2 linked regions of the Homo sapiens genome follow. The protein of the gene in region 1 purifies or fractionates together with the protein of each later gene. This does not show direct contact. Each region holds a gene or a part of one and is shown on either strand. Other genes may lie near its edges.

The links. Proteins that work in one complex are often made in the same cells at the same time.
Region 2: the proteins of RIBC2 (region 1) and LRP2 purify together in Homo sapiens (affinity purification with mass spectrometry; 2 studies listed by BioGRID and IntAct, with this or other methods). This does not show direct contact.

What each region holds. Positions count from the first base shown.
Region 1 is NC_000022.11:45,423,693-45,427,192, forward strand, and holds part of RIBC2 (RIB43A-like with coiled-coils protein 2), read left to right. Parts: intron 1-2,255; coding exon 2,256-2,483; intron 2,484-3,500. UniProt on the Homo sapiens protein: Microtubule inner protein (MIP) part of the dynein-decorated doublet microtubules (DMTs) in cilia axoneme, which is required for motile cilia beating.
Region 2 is NC_000002.12:169,352,535-169,356,034, reverse strand, and holds part of LRP2 (low-density lipoprotein receptor-related protein 2 precursor), read left to right. Parts: intron 1-3,500. UniProt on the Homo sapiens protein: Multiligand endocytic receptor. Acts together with CUBN to mediate endocytosis of high-density lipoproteins. Mediates receptor-mediated uptake of polybasic drugs such as aprotinin, aminoglycosides and polymyxin B.

The DNA.
Region 1 (3,500 bases):
CCAACTGCGGGGGCTGGGGAGGACCAAAAGGCAAAGCAAGACACCTGAAGTCCGAGCTCACCACCCAGTGAGCTGCAAAGGTCTTAGAGATCATCCATCCCTGCCCTTCATTTTACAGAGGGCGACCAAAGAGGGGAGGCTGTTTGCTCCAGTCCCCACTGCAAGTGAATGGCAGGATGTGGGGCCCTTGACAATTAGTCCACTGTTGGCTGGTGATCTGCTCATTCATTTATGGAAGCGATGGTGATGATGATGATGATAATTCACTCATTCATTCATCAATTCAACCAATGTTTATTGAGCCCTTCCTGCTGGGCATTGGAGTGGCTTTTGCTAAACCCTATTGTCTCATTCATCAATTTATTCATTCATATATTCTAGAAGATGTTTAATGGGCATCCACAGCCTGCCTGGTTTTCTCAGACCCCCGGCTCCTCACGTGGATGCCACGAGGCAGCACCATTGCAAACACTCCTGCACTGGGAAAAGCCGCCCTCTGGCTTCTGCAGCTCTGCTACTAACTACAACTAGGCTTTTTAATTAACCTGGGATGTTAATCCAAAGCCCAAGCAGGCCGGTCCAGTTCAACAGGAAGGACACACGTGAGGGCCTCCAGTTCTTGGGTCGGGGCTCATTTCGTCAGAGAGGCATTGTGGCATCAGGGTGTGGCACGCAGGCTCTGGAGCCCGACCACACGGGGTGCAGACCAGGCTCTGCCCTGCAGCCTTGGGCAGGCCACCCACTGCGTCCATTTGATCATCTGCAGAATGAGGAAGCGACAACACCCTCCTGTGTCGGTCAGAATGTGCTAACCCTTGCTGGGATAAGAAGCAGCAGTCTCAGTGGCTTAAACAGAAAGTTGATGTTCCATGCATGCTCCCTGCCCGCCATGGACAGGCTGTGAGGCCTGTTCCTTGGCATCCTCACTTTGGAGCCCAGGTCCTGGGATGGAGCGACCGCCAGCCAGAGGATCCCTGCAGGAGGAGGGAAGGAATGTGGCTAGTCCCCGCAGGCTTCCTCCCAGGAGCAGTACTGCCACCTCTGCTCACATTTCTTTTTTCTTTTTTTTTTTTTTTTTTGAGGTGGAGTCTTGTTCTCTTGCCCAGCCTGGAGTGTGTAGTGGCGCGATCTTGGCTCACTACAAGCTCTGCCTCCCGGGTTCACACCATTCTCCTGCCTCAGCCTCCCAAGTAGCTGGGATTACAGGCCTCTACCACCACGCCCAGCTAATTTTTCTATTTTTAGTAAAGATGGGGTTTCACCATGTTGGCCAGGCTGGTCTTGAACTCCTGACCTTGTGATTTGCCCACTTTGGCCTCCCAAAGTAAGAACAGTGTTGAATCACTTGAACCTGGGAGGCAGAGGTTGCAGTGAGCCGAGATTGTGCCACTGCACTCCAGCCTGGGTGACAGAGCGAGACTCCGTCTCAAAAAAACAAACAAACAAACAAACAAAAAAAAACGGGTGTAGGGGCTTGGAAGGATGAGCTGACTTCCTTAGGGAGTACTCAGTGGCAAGTCCGGTATTGAAGTTGGGCCTGTCTAACTACAAAGCTTGTACTGTGTGACTCAATCAAGCTGGCCTCTGGTGAGCACATGTGGGAGGCCGGCTCCTTGCAAACTGCCCTGTCCATGTGTTACTGAGGACAACTGTAAACCCAAGTACATGTCTCCTAAGCCATCTCCTGACTTTACAGAGAAATGACTGCAGCCCAGAGAGGGGAGGTGACTTGGTATAGGCCACATAGCCAGGGAACCCCCAGGGAATCAAACAGAAATGAGACCTGGAATTACTTTGTACTGGGGGCTGCAGCTCAGGACCACTGAAGTGACAGTGCATTTTCTACCACTGTTGTCAATCACTCTGTTGAGCGTTCTTTGCAGCCCACAGATGTCCAAGGGTTGCCAGGGGCATAGAGCCCTGCCTTGGGTGGGACCAGGCCCACGCGGGGTGTCGGCCTAATCCAAGGAGGGAGTTCCCTGCCTTGGTAAGTTGGTGCAAGACCCGGAGCTCTTATGCATACACCCAACAGGTGGTGATCCCCCGAGTCCAGCCCACCCGCCCAGCAGTGCGCAGGCAGCCAGGGGTTCAAGGACCCACCCACATCCGTGCCTGACAAGTCTCCCCTCCACCCGACTCCTGCTGCCCTTAGCATATCCTCCCCTCGAGGGCCCCCAGTGAGATTTGCTGGCCTGGGTGTCAGAATGCCCCTGGGGTCACTCGGACCATCTTCTTTAATGTCTTCACCTGCTTAGGCCATCGAGTCAGTGGAAAGGAAAAAGCAAGAGAAAAAGCAAGAACAAGAGGACAACTTGGCCGAGATCACCAACCTCCTGCGTGGGGACCTGCTCTCCGAGAACCCGCAGCAGGCAGCCAGCTCCTTCGGGCCCCACCGCGTGGTCCCTGACCGCTGGAAGGGCATGACCCAGGAGCAGCTGGAGCAGATCCGCCTAGTCCAGAAGCAGCAAATCCAGGAGAAGCTGGTGACTGCCCCGCCCCTTTTTCCAGAGCCCATAGAGCCAGGCTCTTTGCTCCCACTGCCTTCCAGGCACAAATGTAGTTGTAGCAGGCCTTGTGCTCTGCCCTAGCACCTGCCCTCAAGGAGTTTCCCTTCTAGTCGGTGGGAGACAAGAGCCAGATAGTGTCACACCCGTATGATGTGGCATTAGGAGTAGGAGTGCCAAGATAGAGGACAGTAGAATGGGAAGACATTGAAGCAAAGACCCAAAAGAGGGTAGGGAGGGAGCCATGTGTCTACCTGGGAAAAGGGCGACCGGGCAGGGTGAGCTGCAAGGGCAAAGGCCTTGAGGCAGGACCCTGCCAGACCTGCTCAGAGAAGGGCGTGGAGCCTGGTGACTAGAGTGGAGTGAGGAGAGGGGCAGGTACGGAGGCCTCAGAGGCAGACGGTCGAGGTCCTGGCAGTCCACTGGGGAGGACTTTGGCTTCTTCTGTGACGGAGACGGGGAACTCTGCAGGGTTTTGGACAGAGAAGTGACAGGATCTGACTTAGGTTGAACAGGATCCCCAGCGTGATCCCCCTGGATTGAGGGCAGACACTAGGGGCTGAGGGGGAAGGAAGGAGATCTCCAGGAAGGCCTTTGCAGTGTTCACAGCGAGAGGTGATGCTGGCTGGGACCACGGGGCAGGCAGTGGGGGTGCTGAGCAATGGTCAGATTCTGGATCTGTTTTGAAGGTAGAGTCGACAGGATTGGATGCATGATTGGGTGGGGACGTGTGAAAGAGAGGAGTTAAAGGCGACTCTAGGTCCTGTGGCCTGAGCAACTAGAGGGATGGAATTGGCATTTCCAGAGATGGGGAAGGTGGTGGGAGGAGCAGGTTGGTGGGTGGGGAGGGGTGGAAATCAGAGTTACAATTTTGGATACGTCAAGTGTGCAAAGTCCATTAGATATCTGTATCTATTAGGATTACATTTGCCTGAATGTGGCAGAAAACCACACATAACAGCATCTTAAACAAAATAGAACTTTCTCTCTTGCAAG
Region 2 (3,500 bases), on another chromosome or scaffold:
CTTGTGGTCCCAGCTACTTGGGAGGCTGAGGTGAGATGATCGCTTGAGCCCAGGAGGTCGAGGCTACAGTGAGCTGTGATCATGCCACTGCACTCCAGCCTCAGCGACAGAGTGAGACCCTGTCTCAAAGAAAATAAATACATAGTTGAAAAGATACAGATAATTAGGTTGATCCATTTGAGATTGATTTTTTTTCCTATGCAGAAATAGTCAAATATTGGCAATTTCATTTGGTTCAACCTAATATAAAATGGAGGCTCAAACTATGTCAGGCCAATCTTGTCTTTTTTCCGTCTCCTGGCTCTGAGATGACTCCATTCTTAAACATGTTCTCCTTTGATGTAAAGCGGCTGTCAGTGGCTCTGGAGCCACCTCCTATCAGATCACATCCACTGGGAAAGAAAAAGAGTTTTTATCTTAGCTATTCCCAGCAAAAGTTTCAGTTGCATCTCAGGGTCTCTACTTAGGTCATAAACTCATTGGAGAACCAACCACTGAATCCCGGGTCATGATGTGTTCCCATGGCTTAGGCTTGGGCTGTATACTCAGTCTTTGAGATCATGTATGAAGGGGTGGAGTCCAGAGAGAAATGGGGGTAATTATTGGGAGAATGGTGAACAGAGGCTGGGATGCAAAAATAACAGGTGTTCAGTATACCTTATCAGATAAAATTGACTGACGATGTTATTTTCATTTTGTATGTGAAGACACACTTGAAAAAGCTACAGAAATTTCTCAAGAGCTGGCAGCCCTGGGGTAACTTACAGAATTGAAAGGAATAAAGTATTGGAAACATTAAGAAAAAAGACATGGTGATCTGTGCCCATGTGACCATGTTGCAACTTTAAGTTTAGAAGGAGAACAGGAGAAAGAAGGACTTTTAGAAGGTTTATTTGGATCCTAAAGTTTTCTTATTTGGAGCAGAGCTTTGTGATAGACAGGAAAGTTCTGGAAAATGAGCTGAGCGATCAGACTACAGGATCCCTTAAGTCTGGTGCAGTATTTCATTTTTCTGTGAATCTTAGGCTCCTACTCCTTTTCCAATTTACTTCACTCCAATGTTTATGTTCCTAAGAGTTTGTCTGTTTTCCAAGCACTAGTCCTTTGCTATAAGGATGGGGTAGAGAGAAAGAAGCTTAAAGAGTTTGCAGACAGGTTAAGATGCTTCTGTGGAGACAGAACACATCTTGGTGCACATCTGAGTGTCCTTAGCACTTCATCTATGGACTTCTTTCATAAATGGTAGAACACGTATCCATCACACCTTATTGGATTAATTCAGAAATGCCAGATATATGTACTCTTTGCTGATGGTTACTTTGTTGGTCTCTAATTTAAGTCTTATCTCTAATCACATTAGCTGAGAAAATGGAGACATTATCATTCTAAAAATAAGATGGTTAACTTTTATATTAGGACACTTCTGATTTAGGATAGCACTGAAATTCAGTGCAAAGAAATGTAAGTCTTTCCTAGATAATGACAGATTAGACAATTTGAAGTTTCACTTTTGGTCATTAGCCCTCAGGTCATGCCTGACCTCAAGGTTACTGGAAACAGTGAGAAATGAATGAAAGGAGGAAATGTAATTACCATTCTGTGCATTGAATAGTTGAGCCACTGTTACCATGGATACAATGGCGCATTTATTGTCCAGATCTTGAGATCCAAGTTTGTAAGCAATATCCAAGGTCTCCTTTAAATTTATGTACTATCAGCGAATAACACATGAAGATTCCTGGTAACTTTGAAAATAAGTCTTTCCTCACTGATCTACTGATTCACATTAAGTAAGAGCATGTGTACTTTTGAAGGTGTTGAGGAAACCTGAAAAAGACGAAAAGGAAAGTAGCTACACTTCTGTTATGCTGGACATTCTTGGATTCCTCTATAAAAATATTCTGTCTTATACTGTCAGTGATTTGCTTGTCACTTTGGGCCCAGTTCTTTGGTTTTTATGTCATTAACAAGGAGAAAATTTCCTGAGTAAAGGTTGAAAAAATCAAAATCGTTTATTTTTATTTTTTGAGACAAGGTCTTACTTTATCACCCAGGCCAGAGAGGGTCTCACTTTATCACTCAGGCTGGAGTGCATGGCTCCCTGCAGCCTCAACTTCCCAGGCTGAAGAGATCCTCTCCGCTTAACCCCACAAGAAGCTGGGACTACAGACACATACCAGCACTCACAGTTAATTTTTATATTTTTTGTAGAGATGAGGTTTCTCCATGTTGTTCAGGCTGGCCTCAAACCCCTGAGCTCAAGTGATCCTCCCGCCTCAGCTTCCCAAAGTGCTGGGATTATAGGCGCTAGCCACCATGCCCGGCTGAAATCATTTATTTTGTCAGGAAATTCTTAAAGTTGAATTTAAGAATGAAAGTATTTTATCAGAAATATGGCAATCCTACCCACATTTTAATCTCACTAGAAGGGGGGTGATACATGCTAGCATGTACTTCCACACTGGTTTAATTTTGATGTGGGGAAGGGTGTGGAGAATACTTTTTGTTGCAAGAAACAGAAAACCCAACTCAAAATGGCCTACACAATAAAGGGTATTTCTTGGCTTATGTGAGTAAAAAATACTGAGGCAGAGTGGGGTTCAGGCGAGGTGCAGTCAGGGCTCCAGTTCTCTTTCTTTGTGTTTTCCTTGACCCTACTCCCCCCTAAGTTTCACCTTTGTGTGCGGTCTGGCTTCCCATATGATTCTGATATGGCTGCCAGGGCAAATGGGGCTACGTGTTTCCTTGATCCTATCCAGGGGGAATCCAACTTTGAGAAGGTTTTAGTTATGTTCTCAAAAGTATTATTTCATCACAATAACTTACAGATTGTTAGAATTTCTAAGGACCCTAGACAAAGTCAGCTAGCTCCCCAAACTTGACATATCATCAAAATCACCTGAGGAACTTAAAAAAGTATAGAGATTCTTAAATCAAAACTCACCCTTACTAAAGCAGGGGTATGAAAATCTGTGTTTTTTAAAAATTTTATTTTATTTTACTTTCAGTTCTGGGATACATATGCAGAATGTGCAGGTTTGTTACATAGGTATACATGTGCCATGGTGGTTTGCTGTACCTATCAACCTTTCATCTAGGTTTTAAGGCTCACATGCATTAGGTATTTGTCCTAATGCTCTCCCTTCCCTTGGCCCCCACCCCCTGACAGGCCCCGGTGTGTGATGTTCCCCTCTCTGTGTGTGATGTTCCCCCCCCTGTGACCATGTGTTCTCATTGTTCATCTCCCACTTATGAGTGAGAACATGCGGTGTTTGGTTTTCTGTTCCTATGTTAGTTTGCTGAGAATGATGGCTTCCAGCGTCATTCATGTCCCTGCAAATGACATGAACTCATTCCTTTTTATGGCTGCATATTATTCCATGGTGCATATGTGCCACAACCAACCCAAATGCCCATCAGTGATAGACTAGATAAAGAAAATGTGGAAAATCTGTATTTTTAAAAGTTTCAAGGTGATTCTGAGGGCTGGACCAATTTTT